7 separate regions of the Homo sapiens genome follow, and regions 2, 3, 4, 5, 6 and 7 are each linked to region 1. The links come from fine-mapping of genetic effects on gene expression. A gene starts in region 1. Each other region holds a variant in brackets. All regions are shown on one strand. Distances are from middle to middle.

What was found. PIP is the estimated chance that this variant, and not a neighbour inherited with it, causes the effect.
Region 2: its variant is fine-mapped to the expression of ANO10 in whole blood (INTERVAL, PIP 0.98).
Region 3: its variant is fine-mapped to the expression of ANO10 in whole blood (INTERVAL, PIP above 0.99).
Region 4: its variant is fine-mapped to the expression of ANO10 in whole blood (TOPMed, PIP 0.99).
Region 5: its variant is fine-mapped to the expression of ANO10 in whole blood (INTERVAL, PIP above 0.99).
Region 6: its variant is fine-mapped to the expression of ANO10 in whole blood (INTERVAL, PIP above 0.99).
Region 7: its variant is fine-mapped to the expression of ANO10 in whole blood (TOPMed, PIP above 0.99).

The regions. Positions count from the first base shown.
Region 1 is chr3:43,619,860-43,624,270 of GRCh38, forward strand. It overlaps ANO10 (anoctamin 10), which reads right to left and starts at 2,152. Exons shown (of 13, transcript NM_018075.5): 1 at 2,050-2,152. RefSeq lists a silencer at 1,866-2,365 and enhancers at 2,421-3,073, 3,074-3,726.
Region 2 is chr3:43,199,453-43,203,863 of GRCh38, forward strand. No RefSeq gene overlaps it. Among named protein-coding and RNA genes, the nearest start is that of SNRK, 85 kb to the right of the region's middle. The variant T/A (reference allele first, on the strand shown) is at 2,759.
Region 3 is chr3:43,643,661-43,648,071 of GRCh38, forward strand. It overlaps a transcript of ANO10 not described here. Among named protein-coding and RNA genes, the nearest start is that of ANO10, 24 kb to the left of the region's middle. The variant G/A (reference allele first, on the strand shown) is at 2,121.
Region 4 is chr3:43,421,929-43,426,339 of GRCh38, forward strand. All of the region lies in intron 12 of ANO10 (anoctamin 10), which reads right to left. Among named protein-coding and RNA genes, the nearest start is that of SNRK-AS1, 72 kb to the left of the region's middle. The variant G/A (reference allele first, on the strand shown) is at 2,084.
Region 5 is chr3:43,353,673-43,358,083 of GRCh38, forward strand. No RefSeq gene overlaps it. Among named protein-coding and RNA genes, the nearest start is that of SNRK-AS1, 3.9 kb to the left of the region's middle. The variant C/T (reference allele first, on the strand shown) is at 1,898.
Region 6 is chr3:43,442,582-43,446,992 of GRCh38, forward strand. The region is part of intron 11 of ANO10 (anoctamin 10); the gene reads right to left. Among named protein-coding and RNA genes, the nearest start is that of SNRK-AS1, 93 kb to the left of the region's middle. The variant C/CA (reference allele first, on the strand shown) is at 2,541.
Region 7 is chr3:43,562,368-43,566,778 of GRCh38, forward strand. ANO10 (anoctamin 10) reads right to left here. Exons shown (of 13, transcript NM_018075.5): 8 at 3,286-3,360. Among named protein-coding and RNA genes, the nearest start is that of ANO10, 57 kb to the right of the region's middle. RefSeq lists an enhancer at 3,169-3,891. The variant A/G (reference allele first, on the strand shown) is at 1,769.

The sequences.
Region 1 (4,411 bases):
ACCTTGTCCAAAAAAAAAAAAAAAAAAAATCCTCTTCCACCCAAAATTCCGTAATTTCCTAACACATACACACAAAAACTCATACACATTAAAAATAACAGTTTTGGATTCACACATGACATGAGATTTATTGTGAGCTTTTAACCATTAAAACAAAGGTTTACTGCTTATAAAAACAGAAGGCTAGAGACAATTTAACTGACAGATGAGAAAAAGGCTTAGTACAGCTCTCATGCAAGCCATGACAAATATATCCATTTGAGGAACACTGATTTTTCACCTCCAAGCACAGTACTAGGCACATAACTAAAACTCTAATATTTAAAAAAAGAATGAATCCACATGATGAATGATTATACAAGCATTTTCAAAGATGTTTAAGAAGAATTTGATCCACAAAAATGCTAAGTGAGAAAATGTAAGGTGGAAAGAAAAAGCAAAAGTATGAAGTAATATAACAATATTACCCCAATTAGGTAACAATACTACCCTAATTTTGTGTACATTCATATACACAAAAATACAAAAATTAGGAAGAAATGCATCAAAATGTTATTACATGTGGCAAAACTACAGATTTTAATTTTCATCCTTATAATTTTCTCTGTCTTCCAAGTTGTCTACAATGAAAAAAGTTGGCCAGCACAGTGGCTCACGTCTGTAATCCCAGCACTTTGGGAGGCCGAGGTGGGAGGATTACCTGAGGTCAGGAGTTCAAGACCAGCCTGGCCAACATGGTGGAACCCCATCTCTACTAAAAACACAAAAATTAGCCGGGCATGGTGGCAGGCGCCTATAATCCCAGCTACTCGGGAGAATCGCTTGAACCCGAGAGGCGGAGGTTGCAGTGAGCAGACATTGTGCCACTGCACTCCAGCCTGAGCGACAGAGCAAGACTCCGTCTCAAAAAAAACAAAAAGAAAAAAGTTTCAGTGGGTTTAAGTGCATTTACACACTTCAATTTATCAAGACTTTTCTATGCCCTTCCATTATTTTAGATCTTTCAAATTTCATTCATCTGCAACTCTACGATTCTTTCAGCAACAGCTGTTCAGAACAGATGATTTACTTTCCATAGCGAATTTTAAACTGTTTATCATGCAGAATGGGCCCTTAGAAAACATCTAGTCCTCTAGATTTGTATGACTTTAAATTAAAAGTAGACACTACAAAGTGGATTTAACCGCTTTAAACCCCACAGGATTAGATTTAAACTCCGCAGGATTTAAGGCAATATGATACAACTGTGTCTTGAGTCTGAATAAACCTCAGCTGCACTTTTTAAGTCTGGGATCTCCATACACCGTCCTGCTGGAATATAAGGTTTTACAGAAGGCAGCGCACACCAATGCTGGTGCTGTGAAGGCACCCACAAAATCAGACGCTGCCTATAGGGGAGAACCCCATTCCATCCACGTTTCTCAGGTGTCCCAGGCACTAGCCAGACAGGTATCTATTATTTAAACTGTACAGTATGTCCCAGTCAAAAGCCTGGAAACTCAGTCACCTCGATGTGAGCATTATCCTGCAAGCCCGCTCCGGCCAAACCTGCTTGGAGACAGCCTAGTCCGCCCTGATCCCCGGACTGCCCGGGAAGCAAGAACCCCGGGACCCGCGAGCTGACCCTTCTAAAAACCACCCTTCACTCCGCTCCGCCGACCACCCCACTCACTGCCTCCTTCCCCAAAGCGCTGAGGCCCCCAACATCCTCCATCCTGACTTCACCAGCCCCAAATTTCCGCCTCACCGCCTTTCTCTCAGGACTCAAACCCTCGCCCCAGACCCATAATCCCCTCCACAAACCTCTCCCCTCCCCTGCGACCGCCGCTCCCCGCAACACCTTCACTCGTCCCTGCCCCCACAGCCCCCGCGCCCATCCTGGTCCCACTTCCCATCCCCAGGGGTGCTGGCACCGGGAGGCGGCCCGGGAACGCAGGGCGGCGACCAGGCGGAGCTCCTGGAGCCTGCAGCGGCCGGGGCTCTGTGGCTGCAAGGGGCCGGGCTCTGCTGCGGACAGCTGGGGGGTCCGAGGTGCCCTCCCCGACTCACCAGCCGCCGCAGCGCTCCACGTCTTCGGAGGCGGGTCCGAGAGCCGGCGAGAACCGGAGGCCGGGCGAAAGAGTGCTCGGTGCGGGGGGCGGGCCAGGCCAGTGGGGCGGGCGCCGCCGAGCGCTGGGCGTGGCGGACGCGGCGGGGCCTAGATGCGGTCACACGCAGGGGGGCGGGGCCGCGGCGGGAGAGGCGGGGCCTCACTGGGCGGTAGCTCCGGGAGGGGCGGAACTGCGGTGGGAGGGGCGGGGCCTCACTGGGCGATCGTAGTGGACGAGAACCTAGACTGGAACCGGTCCGAAGAAAAAAAGGCAGCCCTCATTGGGCTGTCGCCTGGAACAGGAGACCAGGCCGGGAGAAAGGGAGGGGCGTGCCTAACGTACTGTACCACCCATCGAAATCCGGACGGCAGCGGGAGAGGCGCGGCCGAGAAGGCAGAGGCCTGGTTGGGCTGTCACTCCGAGCCGGGGCGGCATGTGGCTGGGCTCTCCAACCGCGAGCGGTCGGGGCAGGGGAAAGGAATACGCCCCTTCACATTTCCCTCTTCCATCTCTTAAAGACCAGAACCTAATTTTCTGGTCACTTTCAGGTATAAGAACAAGTCTCATTTTAACTGTAGCTCACTTTCAAGTTGTGAAAAACGCAGATCCTTTTATAATTAAAACCTAACATCCAACCACAGCCAAATCCCAAAACCCTTGCTCCTCCTAGAAATCGCCAGACACCTTTCCACCTCCAGGCTCAGAGTCTGCCCCAGCCATTCCTTCTGCCCAGAAAGCTCTTCCCTCGGTTGGCTGCTTGGCTCACTTCCTCACCTCCCTCAGTGTTTGCTGGGCTCTCACTTTCTCCCTGAGGCCCTTTCTGACCATCCTACTTAATACCTGTTCTCATCTGCTCCTCACCCCACCATTTCCTTACCTGCTCTCCTATTTCTTCTGTCCACCACACTTTTTGACTTTTTGTTGTTGTTGTTTTGAGATAGAGCCTCGCAATGTCACCCAGGCTGGAGTGCAGTGGCGCAGTCTCGGCTCACTGCAACCTCCGCCTCCCGGGTTCAAGCGATTCTCCTGCCTCAGCCTCCTGAGTAGCTGGGATTACAGGCGCGCACCATCATGCCCAGCTAATTTTTGTATTTTTTGTAGAGACAGGGTTTCACTATGTTGGCCAGGCTGGTCTAGAACTCCTGACCTCAGGTGATCCGCCTGCCTCGGTTTCCCAAAGTGCTGGGATTACAGGCGTGAGCCACCGCGCCCTGCCGGCTTTAAGTGTTTTTAGTTACCCAGGGTCTACCACAGTCTGAAAATAGGTGAGGCCAGAACAATAAGATATTTGGAGAGAGAGAGAGAGACCATATTCACCTTTTATTACAGTCTATTTTTATAATTGTTCTATTTTATTATTATTCATTGTTGTTAATCCCTTACTGTACCTAATTTATAAATGAAACTTTATCATAGTATGTATGTATGTGTAGGAAAAAACATAGTATACATAGAGTTTTATACTATCCTCAGTTTCAAGCATCCACTGTGGATCTTGGAATGTATCTCCCACAGATAATGGAGGATTACCAGCCCCAATGTTTAGAACAGTGTTAGGTCCATAGCAGACAAGCAATAATTCTGAAATGAAAAATTTAAAAAATGAATGAACACTTTCTGCCTCCATACATCCAGCTTTGGCCAGATCAATGCCTCAACAAACTGCAGTGCGGAGAAGGCTGGTCTGTTCTTTACTCCCCACCCTTCTCTGGGTCTTCCAGGTTCCAGGCAGGAGGCAGGGAAACTAAAAGAAAGGAGCAGAAGACTCGTTACTTGGTAGGAGCAGTTTGTCATTCTTTCTAGTCCTCCGATGCTATCATGGCAGCTCACAACATTATTAACCAGTTTTTGTGCAGCTATCTTTTTGTAGGTCCTGTGTGGTTATGTTCAGAAGTTCTCTCTTTCTTCTGAAAATCAGGACAAATTATTTATGAACTTCAATAAGTTTAGACATGAATTACTCCTTAGACTTTTGTTTTTAAATTGTACTCTTCTTATCTTCTCATCCTAGAACGCACGGCCATCCTCCATATAATTTCATTTTCTTATATTTATGTGGCTGGAGGAATTAGGAAGAAAAATGAATGGAAATATAAAAGTCATTTTCTCTTGTATAATCTTATTTCATCTCCACAATTAACAAATTAAAACTTTCTGTTAAGTATAGCAAATTGTTGGACAGCATAAATGGCAAACCTGAGTTAATGACATAGATCCCTATATAGTAGTCCCCCTTAGCCACATTTCAATACCCCCACTGGATGCCTGAAACCACAGATAGTACTGAACCCTGTATATATTATGTTTTTTCGACCTGATAG
Region 2 (4,411 bases), 420 kb before region 1:
AAAAGCGCAGGAGTATATGACTCATAACCAGGAGGAAAAATAGAAGAAGTCCCAGCAACAGCAGAGATGATGGAACTAGCAAAAGTGGACATTAAAATAGCTATTATAAATCTCATAAATATATGAAAGGATACTCAAGGAAAACACAAACTCAATTCTGAGAGAAGTAGAAGATATAAAAGAAAACTCAAATGGAACTTTTGGAGGTGGAGAATATAATATCTTAAAAAAAACAAAACTTGAACAAAAATCATTATCTCATTGATACTAGAACTCATTTTCAGGCTGTCAAGTGATAATTGAATCATCACTTCCTTGGAGAAGCCTCGCTGGCTGGAACAAACCTAATATTCTGGGCTGTCACAGTCTTCAGCCTCCTCTTCAAAGCACTTGTCATAGTCATAGTACTTCCATTATCTGTGGAACTATGCAACTCATGTCTGTTTTCCCCACTACACCACAAGGTCTAAGAGAGCAAGAGCATGTTTTTGCCTACCTCTGTACCAGTGCCCAGCCAATGCCAAATATGAAGTAAGCACTCCATAAATATATCTTGAATATATGAATGGACTTCTATAATCAGCTTTGCAGTGTATTCATTTGGCAACTCTTGTTTAATGCATCACGCCTGACTTCTTCCTTCCTTCTTCATCAGCATAGTGATGCTGTTTGACCATGAGGTCCAGCTCTCATATGGCCTCATAAAATGGGCTTCCTGCAGGCACTGTTGAATCCTGAATTAAGTGTGAACAGATGATTCACTAAGCGACCTGGAGCAAGTTGTTTAACCTCTCTGATCTTTGGGTTTTTCAGCTACTAAATAAGAATATTGAAACAGATTACCTCTAAGAACTCTCCCAGCTCTCATGTTCCAGGATGCTGGTTGTGGTCCAGTCTCCAAAAATGCTGCTCCTCCGGGCAGGATCCTCACTTACCTCCTGGTGGCCATACTCTTCCTGAATTGAACTTGGGCTTTCTGTGTGACCGATAGAGTATGGTGAAGAGAACGGTGAGTGGCTTCTGAAGGTAAGCCATAAAGGGCACGGCAGCTTCTGCTTTGGTCTTTTGGATTGTTTGCTCTAGGGGATGCCAGCCACTACGTCATGAGAACACTCAAGCCACCACAGGGAGAGGCTCTTGAAGAAAGTAATTAAGGTCTCGTGCTAATAGTGAACTATCTTGGAAATGGATCCTCTTGCTTCAGTCAGCCTTCAATTGGCTGTAATCTCAGCAAACATTTGACTTTAACCGCATGAGAGACCATAGCCACAACCTCCCAGCCACACCACCCCTGAATTCCTGACCCACAGACACTTTGAGAGACAATAATTGATTACTGTTCTTTTATTTATTTATTTATTTTTATTTTTTAGAGACAGTCTCACGTTGTCACCCAGGCTGGAGTGCAGTGGTGCAATCTCGGCTCGCTGCAACCTCCGCCTCCTGGGTTCAAACGATTCTTGTGCCTCAACCTCCCAAGTAGCTGGGATTACAGGCACGCACCACAACACCTGGCTAATTTTTGTATTTTTGGTAGAGATGGGGTTTCACCATGTTGGCCAGGCTGCTTTTGAACTCCTGGCCTCAAGTGATCTGCTCGCCTTGGCCTCCCAAAGTGCTGAGATTATAGGCATGAGCCACCACGCCCAGCTGATTATTGTTATTTTAAACCACTGAGTTGTGGAATAATTTGTCAGGCAATAATAGATAACTAATATACCGGTACTGAAAGCTTACCCTTCCTCATTCTTTAAAAACTTCTGCCACAAAGAAAACACAAAAGTGTTGTATAAGCTGAATCCCCAAAACAGAAATCTTTCCTAACTTGGTCACCAACTTGGATGCCTGGGATTTAACCTGAAAGTCTCAATACAAAAGCCCTCTTTGTTCATTTGGCACCCAAAGACCTGATGACACCCAATCTCCATTCTGCTCCTCCCTCTTTTCCTTCTTTTTCTCATCAGCCATGTTTCAGTCCTGTTTTAACAATTCTACTCCCATTCTGCTGCTGATTTCCTAGGTGCCCTGGGGACATGTTTCTTGCTCTTCTGAATGAGCTTTCCAAGTTCCATAATCAGTTTGAATATATCACAAGCACCTGTGGGCACTTGGCAGGTGCTGAACAAATATTATTTCCTGCCTTGGTCTAGGTCCTTCAGAAAGCAGAAACTGAGCAAGGATTGAGGTTCTAATTTGCTTAGAAGTTGCAAGCCCAGAGCAATGGAGATGAGGGGGCAGAAAATGAGGGAAGAGAAGTCATGAGAAGTAATGCAATGCACTACTGTGATGACCTATTTCACCCACCATAAGCTTGGATGGGACACCAGGTTGCATGTTTACTTAGTATAAAGAGTTCTCTGAAAAGGCTGCAGGAAGGATTAATGATGCAGAGGCACCCACAAGACAGAGTAGGATGGGGGAAGTTATCTGCCCTGCGCCCATCTGTCTTCTATCTCCTAGGTCAATGTCCACTTCCTGAATAGTTACTAACCTTGCATTATCCAGTCCCTGATGACTGCCCAAGAAACCAGATCCCATGCCCCATGGTGAGGTGTTTCACCCAGTCCAAAAGTGGAGGGCATCCGGGAGTGAATGGGCACTATCCAGAAGAGGGTACGAAGCCATAGAGGGAACCTAAGAAGATATATAAGGTATGTCTCCTTATAGTTATCCTCTTGGTACTGTTTCCAAATTCTCAGACACTAATTTGCTAGCAAGCACAACTATAGAAAGACCTGGATTCTTGTTGCCTTGACTG[T/A]ACCCGTTCCTCAAACTTGTAACGTGGGTGGAAGATAGAGTGAGGCTGCATATTTTTGTAAGCTGACCCTTGCAGGCTCCAAGACAGATGGACACACTCAAATCTTGGCATGTAAAATGCAAGACTCGCTCTTTCTTCAGGTGGCTAGAAGGGAGATCTTATCTGTCAGTTGAGGGGGTCTCTGAGACAGTAACATTCGCCCAGCAGTTTAAGAAAAATGTAATTTAATAGAGTAAAACCAAAGCTTTTGAGCAGTCATTGGGCTGATTTTGACGAAAATTCCCCAAAGCTCTTGTTTTTTGCTAGGAAGAGAAATGTTTCCTCCTAAGAGTTTTTCAAACCTCTACTTAAATTCAACAGTGGCAAAGTGGCTGTGCTCAACAGATGGTGGATGCAGGAGTCCCTCAGAATTCCAGTGTACAAGCCGGGCATGGTGGGTCATGCCTGTAATCCCAGCACTTTGGGAGGCTGAGGTGGTTGGATCACTTGAGGCAGGAGTTTGAGACCTGCCTGGGCAACACGGTGAAACCCTATCTCTACTAAAAAATACAAAAATTGGCCAGGTGTGGTGGCACATGCCTGTAATCCCAGCTACTTGGGAAGCTGAGGTGCAAGAATTGCTTGAACTCAGGAGGTGGAGGTTGTAGTGAGCCAAGATCATGCCACTGCACTCCAGCCTGGGCGACAGAGCAAGATTCTGTCTGGAAAAAAAAAAAAAAAAAAAAAAAAAGAATTCCAGTGTACCAAGAGGCTCAGTCCAGCCCTCATTTACAGAGGAGGATGGGTGGGTGGGTGGATGCTTGGGTGGATGAATAGATGAGGTAGCTGCTTAGTTTTGGATATTCAAGAGGTATTGTCTGCACCCAACCCCTTAAACAGGCAAACAAGAAAAAGCATCAGTGTGGGTTTTTACTGTCTTGAATCATTCTCTCTGACATGTATTTCTTGTCCCTGACACAGCTACCCCCTCCGATCCCCCACCCTTCTGGTTTGTTATCAGCTCCATGCTGTCTCTTTGCATTAAAGTGACAAGAAGCAGCACAAAGCTGACGACAGGAGGCCAGAGCTGTAATTTGCACTGACATTCACTGGCGTTATCCACTTATTGCCTGGTAAGCCAAATAGGAGATTTGTCTGATTTTGATCCCAGGAAGAGAAATGACAACCCTGCTCCACTCTTGCCATTCTAAACAAGGCACCAAGCTGGTCCTCAGGTCTGAGTTCTGGCTGGCAGTGACCCCTCGCAAAATGTGGGTCTTCGCTATCATTCCTCCTTTCCTCCTCTGGCTGAAATTTCCTTTCAGGCCTGACATCCGGCAAACACTGAACTAGAGATTTTGGTTGCTGAAGAGTGAGTACTACTGTCATTTTCTCAGCTAGGGGTGGTACGGTTCACAGGTCACCATGAGGCCTCAAAAAACTATTTGGGGAAAGAGTCCTGACTTCCCCTTGGAAGTCAAACCCCAGCTGAAAAATACCTCAACAATTCTCTTTCTGCCTCCCAGACCCTGCCCAAGCTGTAAGAGAAACAAGGCTGAACAAGAGGCTCAAGAGAAGTGGCATGAAGGGAGTTAGCCTGCGAGCAGGGCTTGCTACATAATTGGCAAGGCCCAGTACAAAATAAAAAAGTAGGACCCTTGCTCAAAAAAGGGG
Region 3 (4,411 bases), 24 kb after region 1:
CATGTACTTGTCCTCATCTTTTCTTTTTTTTTTTTTTTTTTTAGATGGAGTCTCGCTCTGTCGCCTAGGCTGGAGTGCAGTGGCGCAATCTCGGCTCACTGCAAGCTCTGCCTCCTGGGTTCACACCATTCTCCTGCCTCAGCCTCCTGAGTAGCTCGGACTACAGGCACCCGCCACCACGCCCAGCTAATTTTTTTGTATTTTTAGTAGAGACGGGGTTTCACTGTGTTAGCCAGGATGGTCTCAATCTCCTAACCTCATGATCCGCCCGCCTTGATCTCCCAAAGTGCTGGGATTACATGCGTGAGCCACCGCTGAGATAACTTGAAATTGGTCTCTCCTGGTCTGTCATTTGTTTTTTGACCTTGCTTCTTGTATTTTGTTTGTTTTAGGTAGTAAAGTTCACCAATCTTTCCCTGATTTTTTTGTTTGTTTGTTTGTTTGTTTGTTTTTGCTGAATGTTGAAAAGGCTTTCCGTGTCCCCAGGTTATAAAGTAATTCACCTGTGCCAAACCTCCTTGATTGCACATTGTATATTTGGATCTCTGGTCCATTTGGGATTTATTTTAGTGTGAGGTTTAGATTCACTCCATCCTTTTTCAGGTGGCTTTCTATTTGTCCCAACACTATGTATTTAAAAGCCCAGTTTTTCCTCAGGAAATAACTTGATTTAGTTTTAGACTTTAACTTGCTGTAATGCAGCACACAGAGACAAAGAAGCAAACATGGGGGTGGGAGGGTGAGAAATGAGATCAAGGAGTAGACTTGGTTACTCTGCCATAGAGTAGAACTGCTCCCTCCCTCCCTGGAACAGAGAGGAACAATGCACGCACAGTGTGTCTGTGCTGTCCTCCACTGGCCTCTCCAGATCCAAGATCTGGCCTACCTGGCCTGCTCTCCTCCACAAGGCTCACCTCTGTGGATGACATCACTCAGTAGCCTTGCCCCTGGCTTTTGATTGGGTTTACTCTGATGGGGGACTGTCACACTGCCAGGAGATCTGAGCACAAGATAAGAGAAACTGGATTCCCTTTGGCAGGTGCTGCAGTGTGCTCTCCATAACCACCTCTTCAATGGGTCAGCCACCCTTCTGGTTGCAGCTCTTGCTGACTTCTGATAGGCCCTTCCTCCCACTTGCCCTTCAGGCCTGGGCGGTAACACCTTCCCATTGGTGCTGGCACCCTGGGTGTTTCACTGCCCTCAGTTGCTTCCTCAACCTGTCTGCACCTCTGTAAAGAGGCCCTCTTGAACCCTTTTCAGGTATGCCTTCTTGTTCATTGAGTGTGCAGCCTGTGTCCTGCCAGAACCTGGCTGATACCAACGACATCACAAATACATACCAATCCATCTGTCAAAAAGGTAGGCAATATGGCTGTACTCCACCAATCCTAAATTTAAAAATTTACAAAGCCAATAAACAGTCAAGGAGGCCACATCTCATTTAGAGATCTTCAGTGATTCAACTTGATTATTCATTATTTATCTTGATTATCCTCCTTATTCACTATGCAAGGCTCTGGTCTAATTTGTGGTTGGCTTCAGAAAGCAAACGCATCTCAAAGATTTAAGGTTGAAATCCCAGCACTTTGGGAGGCTGAGGTGGGCGGAGCACAAGGTCAAGAGATTGAGACCATCCTGGCCAACATGGTGAAACCCCACCTCTACTAAAAATACAAAAATTAGCTAGGCATGGTAGTAGGTGCCTGTAATCCCAGCTACTCAGGAGACTGAGGCAGGAGACTCGCTTGAACTCAGGAGGCAGAGGTTGTAGTGAGCTGAGATCGTGCCACTGCACTCCAGCCTGGCGACAGAGTGAGACTCCGTCTCAAAAAAAAAAAAAAAAAATTTAAGGTTGAACTCCTCCTAGGGATATTAAAGAGAATATTCTCTGCCTCTGAAGACAATTCCACTAAAAACATTTCTAAAATATTTCAAGCTAGTATTCTTTCTGAAGTGATTGCTTTGAAGTCGGACATGTGCATGTGCAGGCTGTGCTATGTTTGCTTAAAATAAAATAAAAAATAACCCTGCTCCCATTACTCCCAGTCAAGCCCCTAGAGCTATTTCCTGGGCACATTTATTTACTCTGATAGCTCTGCACTTAGCTTTTCAAAGGCTCT[G/A]GCAAAGTTATTTAAGTATCTCTGCCTGGTGTTTTTTATTTTTATTTTTTTGAGATGGGGTCTGTCACCCAGGTTGGAGTGCAGTGACACGATCTGGGCTCACTGCAGCCTCCACCTCCCAAGCTCAAGCGATCCTCCTACCTCAGCCTCCCGAGTAACTGGGACTGCAGGCACGCACCACCACACCTGGCTAATTTTTTGTATTTTTGGTAAAAAGGGGTTTTGCCATGTTGCCCAGGCTGGTCTCAAACTCCTAAACTCAGGCAATCCACCCGCCTCAGTCTCCCAAAGTGTTGGGATTACAGGCATGAGCCACTGCGCCTGGCCTCTACCTGTTTTAAGTAGCTTAGTTGACTAGTGGAAAACGTCTGTGGGAAGTTTCTTATTTTTCTGCAGAGTCATGTTCAAAGTTATAGATTAGCTTGTTTTAGTATGTAAATTTTAGTTGTTTTACTCTGATACAATGTGAAAACAAAAGATTCGAGGAGTTCTAATTCCCATGCTTCTAAGAGGGGACTCTTTCCACTTCCCTATTTTGAGCAGGGATGATGAGGAGGAGGGAGAGTAGACCAAGGGCACACTTCTGCCTGCTACCTGTCCTGATCCTTGTATATGCTCATTGTAACAGCATGTGTGGCTGAGATTGTGAATTCGTCTTTGAGTTAGAGAACTAAGATAACAAATTTATGGTGGAAGGAGCCTTAGAAGACAGAGCCATGGTTATGGTCATGCTGAGTCAGTAGTCTCTACTTTTTGTTTGTTTGTTTTTGAGACGGAGTCTTGCTCTGATGCCCAGGCTGGAGTGCAGTGGTGCAATCCTGACTCACTGCAACTTCCACCTCAGCCTCCTGAGTGGCTGGGATTACACGTGCCTGCCACCACACCACGCCCAGTTAATTTTTGTATTTTAGTAGAGACAAGGTTTCACCATGTTGGCCAAGCTGGTCTTGAACTCCTGACCTCAGGTGATCTGCCTGCCTCAGCCTCCCAAAATGCTGGGATTACAGGTGTGAGCCACCACACCTGGCCTCTTCTTTCTTTACATAGACTCATATGACTGTTTACTTCTAGTTCGGTTCTAAAATGAGAAATTTGTGCTGGTCACACAAACTGTCCCTTTCAAGTATTATGGAGTCATCCCTGAAGGTGGGGGTACAACATCTGGAAGGTAAAGACTGGCTTGTTGTGAAAAGCGGGAAAGAAAAGCACCCTCCCTTCCCAAAGAAGAAAATTCTCTTCGACCTTCCAACTGTTAAGGTCTGGAAGTCTGCCATTGGAGTATGATTCCTTTGATTTATGGGTCCAGTCCAGAAGACTGGATGTATTAGTGTGGATTCTTCAAAGAACCAGAACCAAAAAGATATGTGTATATATGTGTGTGTGTGTGTGTGTGTGTGTGTGTGTGTGTGTGTATTCTATACCCATAGATAAATAGATAGATAAGAGATTTATTATGGGAATTGATTCACATGATTATGGAGGGTGAGAAATCTCATGATCTGCTGTCTGCAAGTTGGAGAATTAGGAAAGCCAGTGGTGTGTGTTGGGGAGTTGGGGGAGCGCTGGTATAAGCCCCAGAGTCTGAAGGCTTGAGAACCTGGGGCTTAGATGTCCGAGGGCAGAAGATGGCTGTCTCAGCTCCAGAAGAGAGAGTGAATTCACCCTCCTCCCACAGTTTTATTCTCTCTAGGCCCTCAACGGCTTGGGTGATGCCCACACACCTTGGTGAGAGCAAATTCCTCTCTACTCAGACTACTGATTCAAATGTTAATCTCTTCTGGAAACATCCTCTCAGGCACACCCAGAAATAATGTTTAACCAGCTTTCTGGATATCCTTTAACCCAGTGAAGTTAAGACATAAAATTAACCATCATATTACACTACTCTGTATTCGAAGTATTCAAATCCTTTTACTGTCTAATTCTAATTACTTTTCAGCCATATCCCCATGGGCTCTGGAAGGAGACAGATTGCAGAGTTTAGGATTCTGATGCAATCACTTAACAGTAGTGTGACATAGATAGACTAAACCTTTCTGGGTTTCAGTTACTTCATTTGTAAAGGGGTAACAATAGCTCAGAATTCATAGGTTTATGTAGGGATTAAACAAGTTTAAATACATGAACAGTGATTAGCATAGCTGTGGCCTCAACTACTACTATTACCATTAAAGGCCCTCATCTCTCTACTTTGGCTGTCGTGCCCAACTCATTGTTACATTCTTTCTTCACCTCTCTCAAGGGAACCAACCTCCATCTAGGTTACTTGTTACAGCCAGGCTGAAGCCCAG
Region 4 (4,411 bases), 200 kb before region 1:
TTTTAATTTCCTAAAATATTTAATAAAAAGTAAATAAATGGATACATAAGCCAATCCTAGGCATTTACCTGCAAAAGAAGAGCTGCTCTCCCATATGTTGACCATCATGGCAATGCAATTATTAATCTAATACAGAATATGAGATTGGAACTCTAACTTTAAAAAAGAATACATCTTTTTTGTTGTTGTTGCTATTGTTGTTTTTTGAGATGGAGTCTCGCTCTGTCGCCCAGGCTGGAGTGCAGTGGTGAGATCTCAGCTCATTGCAACCTCTGCCTCACGGGTTCAAGCGACTCTCCTGCCTCAGCCTCCTGAGTAGCTGGGATTACAGGTGCGTGCCACCATGCCCGGCTAATTTTTGTATTTTCAGTAGAGACGGGGTTTCACCATGTTGGTCAGGCTGGTCTCAAACTCCTGACCTTGTGGTCCGCCTGCCTCAGCCTCCCAAAGTGCTGGGATTACAGGTGTTAGCCACCGCGCCCACCCTTTTTTGTTGTTTTTAAATATAGTTTTAAGCATTCTGATATCTCTAGAATTTATTATGAGGCAAGTTTTTTCTTTACCAATGCAAATACATTTGAATGACATCTGTGAAAATGGTCCCAAGCACACAGCCATCACTTCTACAGCATAGTGGCCCCAAGGCCTTTCTCTGTGGAATGGACCTGTGCCTCCAGGCCCCCTCTTACCACATTGCTTCCAATCTATCAATGGGGTGACTTGAAAAATGGTAAATTTTATTCCATTTCACAGCCTATTCAGTAGTTTTCATAAGAAAAAATAAATCTGCCTATGATTTGGCCATGTTTCTCACATCTACGGGGAATATTAAGATATATAAATTTTACAGTTTGCTTAGCAAACCAATGAGATAAGTAGTCACTTACATACATTGTTTACTGAGGAAGACAACGATCAGAAGAGCTGTAGTTTTATTTTACTGTCTGGATGCCTCTGTGCACTTTAAAGAAATTTTTCTCTAGTGAAAACATAAAATACAGGAGGAAAAAGTCTACCCATCAGTGATAAAAGGAGGATTGCTCCAGAGCCTGAATTAGTTTTCTAGCTAACAAGTACAAGTGCAAAGTACAAACTATTTTAGAATTCTTTCTTGCGTGATTTGGGGTTATTTTACAATCTTGGGGAGCTACTCTTGTTACTGATGTCAATCACAGTCAGATTTTTTTTGGAAAAAAAAAAAAAAGGATTTGAGCTTTATCAAGGCAAGGTATGTGGTCCTTCTAAAGTGTCCACATACAATTCTTCAGAATGCATTCTCTTCCCCAGTGATCCCAGAAAGGCACATGACCTGTTTCCATTTCTGCCAGAGTATCTATTTTAAGACTCTTTTTTTTGTCCAAGGACATCATTTGTCCTTATTTATTTAATATATTGGCTTGTGAATTACATGTGAGTCAACAAACTCAGTTTGATTAAGTGGATATTTATTCAGAGTCTATTGGGCGCCAGGCCCTATGCTGGGTGAGGGGACTCAGCAGTGAGTGAGTCATCACCTGGCCCTCGGGGACCTCGCAGCTCACAAGGGAGACTGAAACAGAACAAACTATAGTGGGGCAAATGAACAGAAATGGGCACCAGGCTCCTGTTACACAATGGGAAGAAGGCTTTCTCCAGGAGGTGGGGTCTGTGAAGCTGACTGCAGAGGGCAGGTATACTGGTGGTCAGAGTTACAAAGTAGGAGTGCTTGGGAATCTTGCTAGACCCAAAAGGTGCAAAGGAGCCAGTATTTATTTGTGCATTAATCATCTTTAAAGGAGGTTATCATTTTATCAATTGGAGAGAAATTTACTGTGCAAAAAATTACCTGCAAATGGCTAACAGACCCTACCGTGGAGAGCTGTTCTGAAGAGACACTGGCACATGCAAAAGGTTTAGAACAGTGCCTGGCTCATGTTCTCACACACTACATGTCAGCTGTTACTACCTCATTGTTATTACAGCCCAGCTGTGTTAGGTCATGAAAATAGGTGGGATTGCCACAAAGGTAGAATTCTGACTCTCCAGGCAAATCTGATGTTACGGTACCATTTTATCCTAGAATTCCTTGCTGGGTTCACCCAGC[G/A]AATGCATGAGTTGGTCCTCCTCCTCCCTCATCATCCTCATTCCCCCAACACACTGCTCCATAATGGGTCTTACTCACATTGCCTCATTCCAGCCTCATTCTGACTTTGCCCCATTTGAGTGTTGGGGGGACTCTAATACAGGAAGGTCAAGTCACTTCTCTGCAGCTACACAGGGCTGAAACCTCCTTTGCAAAAATCGTTGCAGTGAGAAAGTTATGACACTGAAAGGGATCTGATCTAACCAACTCCATCTTGCTTCCAACCTCTAAGCTAGCTGCCCTTGCTCATTCCTAGGCAAAGGCCGAACTAACTTTGGAAGAAACTTAGTTTATAGTTTAACTTTGAAACAAAGATGATTAACAGTCCTTTCCTGAAACAAACTCCTTTCTTGCCTGGGAGCCAGACCACCTTTATAAAACTAACAAATTAGCCACAAGACTTGCAACTTCCCCAGTTACTCCTGCAGATAACATGTAGAATCTAAGATCGGTCTTTTAAAATCTCTTTTCCAGTTTTTGCATTTCTGAGGACTGATGGCTCCACCAGATTCACCAACCAGTCCTGTGGCCCTCACCCAGGAACTGACTCAGCTGAAGAAGACAGCTTTGACTCACTGTGATTTCACCTCTGATCCAATTAGTCGGTACTCCCCATTCCCTGGCCCCCTACCCACCAAACTATCCTTGAAAAACTCTAGTCTGAATTTTTGGGGAGACTGATTTGAGTAATAATAAAACTGCTCTCATGTTCAACCTGCTCTGCATGAATTAAACTAGTTCTCTAGTGCAATTCTCCTGTCTTGATAAATTGGCTCTATCTGGGCAGCGGGCGAAATGAACCCTTTGGGTGGTGACAGGGCTGGAAGACAAACCTTCCAGTGAAAGAAGAAAGGGAGAGGCAGGCTCAGACAGGCCACCCAAATGATAGATATACCATAAACTTTGGTACTTTTTACTGGGCCTAGACCTGACTTGGGGCCCCAGGAAGTAGACCACCCCTTCCTAAGGACTGTGGCTATTGGCTTTGTTAGAGGCTAATTCTGTATTTGGATTTAACATTTCATTCTGAACTAGATGTTAGCAGATTAATATGTGATTACCTATTCAATAGTCAAATACTTTAGCACCTTAATTCTAGGCTGTAAAATTTTACAGTTTCCATTAAAAATGCTTATGTATTTACTGTAACTTTTTTTTTTTTTTTTTTTTTAAATAGAGATGAGGTCTTGCCATGTTGCCCAGGCTGGTCTCAAGCTATCTGTCTGCCTTGGTCTCCTAAAGTGCTAGGATTACAGACATGAGCCACTGTGCCCAGCCTCTATTTACCTTAACTTGAGAGCACAAATGGAGCGGGGGGAAGAAGTTCAGAAGTTCTTACGAAATGTTGAAAAAAACCTATTAAATTAGGTTAATATTTAACCTAATTTAACACTGAATACTTAAATATAAACCAAAAATAAAATCCTAAGCTGCTCAACTAACAGAACGGACCCCCTCCCCTGGGCCAAAGGGACCTCAGAGAATCCTGGAAAGCTGAATTCTCAGCCATGACAGGGAGGTTGGCAGGCCTCATTATACATTCTCCCTTTTGGAGTTTAGGTACAAATGACTACCACCAGCATTAACATTAAAATAGAGATCATTAGACTGTCAAAACAGACCCTTTGTGGCAGTAAGATAACAAATTGCAACCTGGCTGCAGTACAGCATCACATGACAGATAGCAGACCCCAAAGGAAATCAAATATTTTACCCCACAATATATTTCTTTGACGTATTTTGAAATGGTTCCACAATACTATCTCTTGTGGGGGAAATCTGCGTCTGTAGAGAATATCCATTAATACAGCCAGTCCTTTCCTGGATCTAGGAGAGATGAACCAAGAGTCTGATACCTCTTAAGGTCTGAAGAAACATTTACCATGTATCCCCTCTGAAGGGTGCTACCATCTACCCAACAAGAACCTTGGCTTCCACAAACCCCTTTATCTTAACTCAGGCATTTCCTTCTACTGCCTCCAGGTCTTTAGACAAAGCTTGACTCTTTCAACCAATTGCCAATTTGAATCCACCTATGACCTGTAAGCCCATCCCTCCCCCGCCTCCACACCTTTCACATCGCATCAATGTATACCTCACATGTATTTATTTATGTCTTTCTCTGTAACTTCTGTCTCCCTAAAATGCATAATGAAACCAAACTGTAACGTGACTGCCTTGGGCACTTTCTCAGGACCTCGAGACTGTTCCCTGGGACTATGGTCACTCATATTGGCTTAGAATAAACCTCTTTAAATATCTTACAGAGTTTGGTTTTTCCATTAACAT
Region 5 (4,411 bases), 270 kb before region 1:
TAAAATCATTGGATCCTTCATGTCTCACTTTTAAACTGTTAGGGCAGATCCTGAGCAGTCTTCAGTCTAGGGCTAATTTGGCCCACTACTGAGGCAATACCTCTCTAGGGACTCTATTGAGGCTTTTCTACTCTGGCTGGTAGGAACATGAACTATTACCAGCCTTGGGTAAGTTCTGAGCATTGTTCAGCCTGCTGCTTTCCAGTGGTTCTTTCTCCAGCCTCAGGTAGTTTTCTCATAAGTACTGATCAGTACTCAACCAAAGACCACAGATTTTCTTTTGGAGCTTGCTCACTATCTGTGCAGCTCCCTCCTCTCTGCCCTGCACATTGATCTTGAACTTCAAACTACCTGCTCAACTCAACCAGACTATTTGGGCTTTCCCTCTCTGTGTTCTGGCAACTGCCTTTGGGCAGTGAGCTGGGGCATTCAACTCAGGGCTCACCTCATTTGCCTCCCTTCTCTCGGGGTGACAGCCCTATGCTGTCTGTTGCTCAATGTCTGGAAACTATTGCTCCATATATTTTGTTTGGTTTCCTAGTTGTTTAAGGCAAGAGGGTCAATCAAATTCCTCTAATTCTATCCTGGCCAGAAACAGCAGTCTAAATAGTGGGTCACTCCCCTGCTCAAAATCCTTCCATGGCTTTCCATCTCAGATTTAAAAGTTTAATCCTTGTGTGGTGGCCCACAAGGCCCTAGTGTGTCCTCTGCCCCAGTTATCACATCTGCTCCTCTCAACTTGCTCATTCAGCTCTGGCTGCAATAACCTCCTTGCTAGTCCTTGAACAGGCCAAACACAGGAGATGTCACACTTCGGGTGGTTATCAATCCATGGCCCTTCTGCCCCCTACAGCTGCTCAGCAGGGACGAGGTTTCTCAGACTTCTGGGATCTGGGGAGAGACAGATGAGAAGGGGAAATAGGATGTAGCCCTTTTTGAGCTATTAGGGCCTAAGGACATTGTGACTACCAGGGAGAGAGTCATATTTTTCAGGACGTCTGAATCCAGGACTAAGCACTTGCTGGACACCTCACTCTGAGCAAGGTGTTACAGATTGGCAAGTCGTCAGAAGAGAAAAAAATGAATCGTGGTTCTTGCCAGTTCATAATGCCCTTGGAGAAGAAAATGGTGATTTAAATTAGCACAAGTTGATGGATCAGAGGTGGTGATGTGTCTGCACAGCACCGCTATCAGGGTCAGGGAATTCGAAGAAGGGCGAAGCAGGGAGGAAGAATGCAGAGAGTGGAGAACTGAAGAGTGTGAGCAGGGCTCCAATCATCTGGAGGTCCCTGTGTGAGCCACAGGAGGTAGCAGTGGACTTTGCTGAGACAGCATTCATTTTGCTTCTTGATTCCTTTATCCTTTTACAAGGACTCCAAGGTTTCTGGATTAGAAGATGAAAAGAGTGGGGGTTAGGGTGGGGCCACTGGTAGAAACAGTCACTAAGGGGAACACCAGCATGAAGGTGGAAACAAGACTGAGTCAATGTCCTGCTGGCAGAGCTGGCTTCATGTGTGTATGTGACCTTTATACTCATTTGGGGGGCACCACACTTAGAAGAGTCCCACACTAAGTTTGATGCTCTGCTGTTGTTTTAAAATTCATTGCCACATGGCACATACTCTAAAATTGATCACACAGTTGGACATAAAACAATCGTCAGCAAATGCAAAAGAAGTGAAAACATACCAATGACTCTCTTGGACCATGGTGCAATAAAATTAGAAATCAAGACTAAGAAAATTGTTCAAAACCATAAGATTATACATGGAAATTAAATAACCTGCTCCTGAATGACTTTTGGATAAATAATAATGAAATTTAGGCAGAAATTAAGAAAGCTACCAGAAGACAAGAAATAACCAAAATCAGAGCTGAACTGAAGGAGATTGAGACA[C/T]GAAAAACCATTCAAAAGATCGAATCCAGGCATTGTTTCTTTGGAAACATTAATAAAATAGACTGCTAGCTAGACTAATAAAGAGCAAAAGAGAGACAATCCAAATACACATAATTAGAAACAACAAAGAGGATATTACCACTGACCCCGCTGAAATGCAGATAACCATCAGAGAATATTATGAACACCTCTATGCACACAAACTAGAAAATCTAGAAGAAATGGATAAATTTCTCAATACATACATACACCCTCCTGAGACTGAACCAGGAAAAAACAATCCCTGAACAGACCAATAATGAGCTCTGAAATTGAATCAGTAATAAATAGCCTACCACCCCCAAAAAGCTCAGGACCAGACAGATTCACAGCCAAATTCTAGCAGATGTACAAAGATGAGCTGGCACCATTCTTACTAAAACTATTCTTAAAAATTGAGGAGGAAGGACTCCTTCCTAGCTCATTCTTTGAGGCCAGCATCATCCTGATAACAAAAACTAGCAGAGACTCAAGAAAACTTCAGGCCAATATCCTTGATGAACATTGATGCAAAAATCCTCAACAAAATGCTGGCAAGCCAAATCCAGCAGCACATCAAAAAGCTTATCCACCATGATCAAGTAGGCTTCATCCCCAGAATTCAAGGTTGGTTCAACATATGCAACTCAATAAATGTGACTCATCACATAAGCAGAAATAAAGACAGAGACCACATGATTATCTCAATAGATGCAGAAAAGGCTTTCAACAAAATTCAACATGCTTTCATGTTCAACTCTCTCAATAAACTAGGTATCGAAGGAACATACCTCAAAATAATCAGAGTCATCTGGCCGGGCATGGTGGCTCATGCCTGTAATCCCAGAACTTCGGGAGGCCACGGTTGGCGGATCATGAGGTCAGGAGTTCAAGACCAGCCTGGCCAACATGGTGAAACCCCGTCTCTACTAAAAATACAAAAATTAGCTGGGTTTGGTGGCACGTGCCTGTAGTCCCAGCTACCCGGGAGGGAGGCTGAGGCAGAAGAATTGCTTGAACCTGGGAGGCAGAGGCTGCAGTGAGTGGAGATCGTGCCATTGCACTCCAGCCTGGGCAACAGAATGAGACTCTATCTAAAAAATAATGATAATAATAATAAGAGCCATCTGTGACCAACCCATAGCCACATCATACTGAATGGACAAAAGCTGGAGCATTTCCCTTGAAAACTGGCACAAGACAAAGATGTCCTCTCTCACCACTCCTATTCAACATAGTATTAGAGGTCCTGGCCAGGGCAAGTCCTGGCAAGAGAAAGAAATAAAGGGCATCCAAATAAGAAGAGAGGAAGTCAAACTATCCTGTTTGCAGACACATGATTCTATATCTAGAAAACCCCGTAGTCTCAGCCCAAAAGCTCCTTCAGCTGATAAACAACTTTGGCAGTCTCAGGAAACAAAATTGATGTACAAAAATCACTAGCATTCCTATACATCAAGAATAGTCAAGCCAAGAGCTGAATCAGGAAGGCAATCCCATTCACAACTGCCACAAAAAGAATAAAATATCTAGGAATACAGCTGACCAGGAAGGTGAACCATCTCTACAATGAGAACTACAAAATACTGCTCAGAGGTTGCAGTGAGCCGAGATTGCACCACTGCACTCCAGCCTGGGCGACAGAGTGAGACTCCTTCTGAAACAAACAAACAAACAAACAAACAAAACACTGCTCAAAGAAATCTGAGATAACACCAACAAGTGGAAAAACATTTCATGCTCATAGATAGGAAGAATCAATATCATTAAAATGGCCATACTGTCCAATGCAATTTACAGGTTCAATGCTATTCCTATCAAAATACCAATGACCTTCTAAACAGAACTAGAAAAAACTATTTTGAAATTCTCATGGAACCAAAAAAGAGCCTGAATAGCCAAGGCAATTCTAAGCAAAAAGAACAATGCTGGAGGCATCATGCTACCTGCTTTCAAACTATATTACAAGGCCACAGTAACCAAGACAGCATGGTACTGGTATGAAAACAGACACACAGACCAATGGAACAGAATAGAGAGCCGAGAAATAAGTCTGCACACCTACAACCATCTGATCTTTGACAAAGCTGACAAAAACAAACAATGGGAACGGACCCCCTATTCAATAAATGGTACTGGGGTAACTGGTTAGCGATATGCAAACTGAAACTGGACCCCTTCCTTACATCATATACAAAAATCAACTCAAGACAGGTAAGAGACTTCAATGTAAAACCCAAAACTATAAAAAACCTGGAAGACAACATAGGCAATACCATTCTGGACACAGGAATGGGCAAAGATTCCATGACAAAAATGCCAAAAGCAATTGCAACAAAAACAAAAATGGACAAATGGGATCTAATTAAACTAATGAGCTTCTGCACAGCAGAAGAAACTGCCAACAGAGTAAACAGACAACCTACAGAATGGGAGAAAATTTTTGCAAACTATGCATCTGACAAAGGTCTAATATCCAGCATCTATAAGGAACTT
Region 6 (4,411 bases), 180 kb before region 1:
ATTAGAACACTTAATATTGTTAAAACGTGTATATCACCCAAAGTGATCTATAGATTCAATGCAGTTTCTAACACAAAAGATTCTTAATCTCCAACAGGGTCAGCAAACTTCTTAAAAGGCCACGGAATAAATATTTTAGCCACACAGTCTCTGTCACAATTACTCAACTCTGCCATTCCTTGCAACATGAAAAGCAGAATATATAAACAAATGGGTGCAGCTGGGTGCCAATATAACTTTAATAATAGGCGGCAGGAGGATTTGGTCCTTTGGCTGGGGTTTGCCATCCTTTGGTATAGATTGTATAGAAAGACTGAAAACTCTATTTAATCAGTTAATTAACTCATATGAATTTGTTAAAAGATGAGAAAGCATCACAAAATGTGTGCCTCAATAACATAATGACTAGGACTCTTCTCTGGAGTTTAAAAGGAATTCTCTGGCAGTGTCTTCAGGCCCTATGCCCTGGTGGTCACCCTGAGAAGACGTCTTCAGGGCAGGGCTGTGTCTATGACCCAGCTCACCTTGCTCCACTCCAACCAAGCTCCATTCCTAGTGTGCTGAGGATCCACACAGGGAATGACAGGGAACCACTAATATCACAAAAGGCCTAGGCCTCTGGGCTGCCTGCATGGGTGACTTTCCAAGATCAGTCGAGTGAACAAGGAGTTGGTCTTAAAAGATGTACAGCAAACCCTTGAAGCTTTGCTGAAAAAACAACTCACAAAAAGCAGATTAACAGGAGAAAAGATGTGATATGGATTCAGTTAATGAGAACTCAGGGAAGTGACCAGCAGTTAATTGTTTTCTTCTTTGGTAGGTCTGGACTTTAGGCAGACAAGGGAACTTTAGAGAATCTAATGCTTTGGGAGAGACAGTATGGGGGAGATCAGGGAGACCTTGAGGCTCCCTTTTCAGTTCAGCATGTCAAAGTGCAGTATTTGGGGGTATTGGTTTCTGAGTCTCAATAAATATTAATAGCTGGAATCTAAAAGAAGTATACAGGGAAAAAAGGGAATATGTTAGAAGAGTCAAAACAATGAGAGAGGGAGAACTGCTCAGTATGAAAGCATGAAAAGTATTTTACTTCCTTCCTTCTTTTTTTTTTTTTTTTTTTTGACGGAGTTTCACTCTTGTTGCCCAGGCTGGAGTGCAATGGCACAGTCTCGGCTCACTGCAACCTCCACCTTCCAGGTTCCAACGATTCTCCTGCCTCAGCCTCCTGAGTAGCTGGGATTACAGGCATGCACCACCACGCCTGGCTAATTTTTTTGTATTTTTAGTAGAGACGGGTTTCACCATGTTGGCCAGGCGGGTCTCGAACTCCTGACCTCAAGTGATCCACCTGCCTCGGCCTCCCAAAGTGCTGGGATTACAGGCATGAGTCACTGCACCCGGATCCTTCTCTATTTCATCATTTAATAGAAAAGGTGATTGGGGGAAATATCAATTAGACCAAATTAATGCAAGAAAATAATCTAAAGGGTTACAGACAAATTAAATCATGTGTCTCATTGGCTCTTCTCTCTTAAAATATAATCTCCATTGTAGGGACCTGCTAATCAAGAGGCTTGTTGTAGTTGAGGGACACTGAATGATGGGGTTGTCATTTGTCCCTAGGGTGAGAAAGCTGGCTTTCAAGGCTTTGGCATGCCCTGTGTCACCAAAGAACACATCTTATACAGCTTAAAGCAATTTACATGTGTTAAAGTTTGTTTTCCTCTCATTCAGAGCCACATTTCATGCACAAAGCAGTTTCTAGAGCAGATCTGATGATGGTGAAAGGAAATAAAATCTGTAAGAGGGTTATGTGTGATTTGGAGCTTGCTTTGTTTTTTCAACAATTATTTTGATCACTTGACAAGTAAAAAAACCAAGGAACATATAAAAACTGTGTGCCCAGAAATATTCTCTAACTAAGGCCTACAAAGCAAAGTGATATCTTAAGATTATGATTTCATTCTACTATATACTTACTTCATTTACTTTAATTGTATCAAGTGAGAATTTAAGTCACAATAGAGAAATACACACTTGTAAACCTTAAACTGTTAGCTATAAGGCAGATGTGGTACCGCAGGGGCCACAGGAAAGTGGGTGGCTCTACAACAGTGCAAGGAGAACACACAATCGACCTCCTGTGGTCACCTGACACAGTCATGGCGAGGACGGCAGGGTGCAGGACACTCCAGGTGGCCTAAATATATGTCAGAGTTAGAATAAAAAGCAAGGCTCAACTATGTTAACTGCAAGAAATCCATCTTAAATAGAGGGATTCAGGTTAAAAGTTAAGAGATGCTGGGAGGCCAAGGCGGGCGGATCACTAGGTCAGGAGATCGAGACCATCCTGGCTAACACGGTGAAACCCCGTCTCTACTAAAAATACAAAAAATTAGCCAGGCCTGGTGACAGGTGCCTATAGTCCCAGCTACTCCGTGGGCTGAGGCAGGAAAATGGCATGAACCCGGGAGGAGGAGCTTGCAGTGAGCTGAGATTGCACCACTGCACTCCAGCCTGGGCTACAGAGTGAGACTTTGCCT[C/CA]AAAAAAAAAAAAAAAAAAAAAAGTTAAGAGATGCACACAGATCTTGGTTTCTAATACCATTGTCCAAAACAAAGGAACCAGAGCTCCTTGGAAAAATGGCTGAGTCTAGGACCGCAGCAGGAAATATACAAGATGAGTCTTATCAGATAAAAACTAAGGAAATCTGAATAAAGCATGAACTTTAGTTAATAATATTAATAGTTGTTCACTAATTATAACAAGTGTACCATACCAGTGTTAGATGTTAAAAGTAGGGGAAACTAGCTATGGTGTATATGGGAACTATCAGTTCTAGCTTGTTAACTTTTCTGTAATCTAAAACTATCTTAAAATTAAAAACTTTATTTTAAAAAGACTTTTACTTTATCATATATATTTATCCCAAAATCACAGGTAAAACAATGAATAATTAAACTAGGATTCCAAACAAACCATCTAAAAACAACTCAGCAAAATCTGCTAAACCAGTTCTCAGGTTAAGGGTGAATATCCTGAAAATGACCTACATCTCCCAAATCTATGACCATGTTTCCTTACATTAGAAATATCATTGCCTACAACACAGGCAATGCATTTTTTTTTTGTATTTTTTGTTTTTGAGACGGGGTCTCACTCTGTCACCCAGGCTGTGTAGTGGCACTATCTCAGCTCACTACAACCTCTGCTTGCCGAGCTCAAGTGATCTTCCCACCTCAGCCTCCAGAGTAGCTGGGACTACAGGTGTGCACCACCATACCCAGCTAATATTTGTATTTTTTGTAGAGACGGGGTTTTGCCATGTTGCCCAGGCTGGTCTTGAACTCCTGAGCTCAAGCAATCTTCCCACAGCCTCCCAAAGAGCTGGGATTACAGAACACCAAACCCAGCCTTTGTTCTGTCAGGAGCTGTCCAAACACTGATGAGAGTAAAGACAAGAAGCCTGGCGGAGAGAGAAACGTATAGATATCACTGTGTGTAGAATTCTTAGAGTGGGTGATCACTTTGTGACCTCCACTGTCATCAGCTTCGGGGCCCAGGGTTCATGTCCCACATTTTATTGTGCCTTAGGGCCTAACAGAGCATGTGGATTCAGGAAGGAATGCTTCCCATCTTCTACTTCTCAGATTGCATTTAAATTTACTCCTTGTTGAACTTATCAGCAATAACTCAAGCTTCTCAGGTTTTGCTTTAATGTAACCTTTGATATCTTTGTCAGAGCAAGGGAAGTGGGAAAAATGTACAGAGGCAGTGGATATAGAAGAAAGGGGATGAAAGAAGTAAAGCCAACTGGCAAGTCTTTGCTCTGAGAGAGAGCAACTTCATACAATTGAACAGAGAGTTTGTAACAAAAAAGAGTTACAACTTTTTATAACTGCATATTTTTTTCAAAGATAACATTTTCTGTTCTCCGCTGATATATTTTCTTGAAGAAAATACTGGTTTATGGTTTATTACTTGTTATGTTCTTAAGATATGCTTGAGGCACACTACTGTCAGAAAAGTAAGGAGAAATTTGAACTACTTCTTTGAGAAAGTCAGGTTTTCACTAGGGAGACCCTCTCAGTTACAAAGTGACAATAACAATCAATTTTAACAACTCAGAACTTGCCATACCGAAAACACTCGAGGGAAGATGAATATTCATAGGTAGATAAAAATAATTTTTAAGGTTTAACAACAGCAAAAGCGATTTATCCTAGCTATTCTGAATTTATTATTAAAAAATGTATATACCTATATCTTTTTGAACTATAGTTTGAAGGTAATACAGTCACATGGTTAGGAAAAAAGGTATAAAGTGATACCCCTACCCCTGCCCTCATCTTCCCAATGCCCCACTGTGCCTCCTGCCCACATGTACAATCAGAATATATTAATATTTTCTCCATGT
Region 7 (4,411 bases), 57 kb before region 1:
CGTGAACCCAGGAGGCGGAGCTTGCAGTAAGCCAAGATCGCGCCACTGCACTCCAGCCTGGGCGGCAGAACGAGGCTCTGTCTCAAACAAAAAAAAAAAAAAAAGAAGTTTGAGACCAGCCTGGCCAACATGGTGAAACCCCACCTCTACTAAAAATACAAAAATTAGCCAGGCGTGGTGGCGCACATCTGTAATCCCAGCTACTTGGGAGGCTGAGGTACAAGAAACGCTTGAACCTAGGAGGTAGAGGCTGCAGTGAGCCAAGGCTGTGCCACTGCACTCCAGCCTGGGCAACAGAGTGAGACTCCATCTAAAAAAAAAAAAGAAGAATGTATATTGGAGAAAAAACACCCTCTTCAATAAATGGTGCTGGGAAAACCAGGTATCTATATGCAGAAGAATGAAACTAGACCCCTCTCTATCACCACAAACAAAAGTCAACTCAAAATGGATTAAAGATCTAAACATAAGACCCAAAACTATAAAACTACTAGAAGAAAACATAGGGGAAATACTACAGGACATTGGTCTAAGCAAAGTTCCCACCATTTTATGGCTAGGACCTAAAAAGCACAGGCAACAAAACCAAAAATAGACAACTGTGACTATATTAAAGAAAAAAGTTTCTGCACAGCAAAGGAAACAACACAGTGAAGAGACAATCTGTTGAATGGGAGAAAAGATCTGCAGACTACTCATCTGACAAGGAACTAATACCTAGAATACCAGAATATACAAGGAACTCAAACAATACCAAAAATACAAATAATCCCATTAAAGTAGGCAAAAGACATGAATAGACATTTCTCTAAAGAAGACATTTACATAGCCACAGGTATATGAAAAAATACTCAACACCACTCATCATCAGGGACATGCAAATCAAAGCCACAATGAGATATCATCCTACTCCAAATAGAATTGCTATTATTAAAAAGACCCAAAAAATCCAGATGCTGACAAGAACGTGCAACAAAGGGAACTCTTATACACTGTTGTTGGTAGAAATGGAAATTGATACAGACATTATATAAAAGAGTATGGCGAGAGGTTTTTTTTTTTTTTTTTTTGAGACATCTAAAAAAAAACCTGAAAATAGAACAACCATAGAATCCAGCATTCTGACTACTGGGTATTTATCCAAAGGAAAAGAAATGAGCATATCAAACGGACACCTGCACCCCCATGTTTACTGCAGCACTATTTGTAACAATAAAGAAACAGAATCAACCTCAGTGTCTATCAACAGATGAATAGATAAGGAAAATGTGGTATATATACACAATGGAATACTAGTTGGCCATAAAAAAGACTGAAATTCTGTCAATTGCAGCAACACGGATGGAACTGGAGGTCATTATGTTAAGTGAAATAAGCCGGGCACAGAAAGACAAATATCACAGGCTCCCACTCACACTTGGGAGCTAAAAAAGTTGATCTCATAGAGATAGAGTGGGACGACGGTTACCAGAGGCTGGGTGGGTGTGTGTTGGGGAGAGGAGGATAAAGAGAAGCTGATCGAGAGGTACAAACATACAATTAGAGAGAAGAAATAAGTTCTAACATATGAGAGCAGAGTAGGGTGATTATGGTTAACAATAATGTATTGTATGCTCCCAACATATAGAAATGATAAATACTCGAGATGATAGATACTCTAAATACCTTGATTGATCATTACACATTTTTTTTTTTGAGACACGGTCTCACTTTGCAGTGCAGTGGCGTGATCACAGTTCACTGCAGCCTGGAGCTCCCAGGCTCAGAC[A/G]ATCCTCCCACCTCAGTCTCCCAGGTAGCTGAGACTACAGGCAAGTGCTACCACACCCAGGTAACTTTTTGTATATTTGGTAGAGACAGGATTTTGCCACGTTGCCCAGGTTGGTCTTGAACTCCTGGGCTCAAGCAATCTGCCTGCCTCAGCCTCCTAAAGTGCTGGGATTACAGGTATGAGCCATTATGCCCGGCCTTCATTACACATTTTATGAATGTAACAAAACAGCATATGTACCCCATAAAAATGTACAACTATGTATGTATTATTAAAAAAAAAATAGAAAAAAAGAGCCACCCATAATTACACAACCATGACAAAACCACTGCTACTTCTTGGGATATTTCTTTCCAATCATATATAAAAATAAAACTATAATTATCCTATATGGATACACTTTGTTTACTGCTTTTCTCACTTAATATGTTTGAGCATTTTCCCGTATCATTAAAAATTCTTTTTTACTTGGCCTGTACACTGCTGTTGAATTAACTATTACTCCCAATTTTGGCTATTATAATGCTGGTGCTTGGATATCTATGTACATGAATCTTTGCTCCTCTCTGAAGATTTACTAGGGATGAGTTAAGTTTCTTGGCAAAGCTATCAAGAGAGCTGGTTTCCAGAGATGTATCAATCTCCACTTTTCTCAGATAGATATGAATGTTTCCATCACACCCCACCTTTGCTGGTATTACAACTGTTTTTTTAAGCGGTCCTCCTCCATTCCCCTATCTTCTGCTAAGTAAAGGAGACTCTCTAAAGCAGAAGAAATGAGAAGTCACATCCAACTAATACACTATTACATGGGACCACTGTTACATGTACATCCAACTCATCAATTCCAAATGTACTACTTTAAACTTTCTCTATTTTGAAAAATAATTTTTAACAAGTGGAGTCTAGCCTTTGAGACTGCTCACCAACAATCTCAGAATATTAAAACTGGGAAAAAACAGCCATTTACTTATAACTGGTTCAAATATAAAAAGGAGAATTTAGAAATCAATAATTTGTTCTTAATTTATTATTCATTGGTATTATGTGATCCAGAAATGACAACACACCAAAATAAATGTCAGACACTTTAGAAAAGATACAGCACTGCATAGGATCCACTGGTCTCTAAAGTTTAACAACTTATTAACTTAAAAATTAAATTTGCGAGACCTAAGGTTACACCAATCATCCCCATCCAAGGCACACAAAACAGTTCAGTTAATGAATACTATATTTTTGCTGTTAGAGTTGCTTACAAGCTTTGAGGTGAACTATATAATTGATTTTACTGCCCTATACTTAATTTTTCAGGTTGGTTAGGTTCAACTCATTTCAGTTGAGCATAATACACAATGCCATTCCTAATAATTTTTTATTTAGAATTTGGCTTAAAAACATACAAAATTTAAAAGATTTTATTTGTAAAAATAATTTGAAGGCAATTACAGCATCTAAAGATAGAAAACCACCTCTATGACCTAAAAAATTGGTATTTTTCTGTTATTTTTACTTACCTGGCGCAAAAGCTTCATATCTTTCAAGACAAAGGCAATATAGAAGAGTGAGGCAAAGCAATTGAGGAAGTTGAACTGCCAAAAAAAAAAAAAAAAAAGATAAGTGTTAAGCACTGCTTTAGAGTACTTTACTACAACTGTAATGCAGCATTTAAAAATGTAATGGGAGCGGGGAGGAGCCAAGAGGGCCGAATAGGAACAGCTCCAGTCTACAGCTCCCAGCCTGAGCGACGCAGAAGACGGGTGATTTCTGCATTTACATCTGAGGTACCGGGTTCATCTCACTAGGGAGTGCCAGACAGTGGACGCAGGTCAGTGGGTGCGCGCACCGTGTGCGAGCCGAAGCAGGGCAAGGCATTGCCTCCCTTGGGAAGCGCAAGGGGTCAGGGAGTTCCCTTTCTGAGTCAAAGAAAGGGGTGACGGACGGCACCTGGAAAATCGGGTCACTCCCACCAGAATACTGCGCTTTTCCGACGGGCTTAAAAAATGGCGCACCACGAGATTATATCCTGCACCTGGCTCGGAGGGTCCTACGCCCACGGAGTCTCGCTGATTGCTAGCACAGCAGTCTGAGATCAAACTGCAAGGCGGCAGCGAGGCTGGGGGAGGGGCGCCCGCCATTGCCCAGGCTTGATTAGGTAAACAAAGCAGCTGGGAAGCTCGAACTGGGTGGAGCCCACCACAGCTGAAGGAGGCCTGCCTGCCTCTGTAGGCTCCACCTCTGGGGGCAGGGCACAGACAAACAAAAAGACAGCAGTAACCTCTGCAGACTTAAATATCCCTGTCTGACAGCTTGGAAGAGAGCAGTGGTTCTCCCAGCACGCAGCTGGAGATATGAGAATGGGCAGACTGCCTCTTCAAGTGGGTCCCTGACCCCTGACCCCCGAGCAGCCTAACTGGGAGGCACCCCCCAGCAGGGGTACACTGACACCTCACACGGCAGGGTATTCCAACAGACCTGAAGCTGAGGGTCCTGTCTGTTAGAAGGAAAACTAACAAACAGAAAGGACATCCACACCAAAAACCCATCTGTACATCACCATCATCAAAGACCAAAAGTAGATAAAACCACAAAGATGGGGAAAAACCTGAACAGAAAAACTGGAAACTCTAAAAAGCAGAGCGC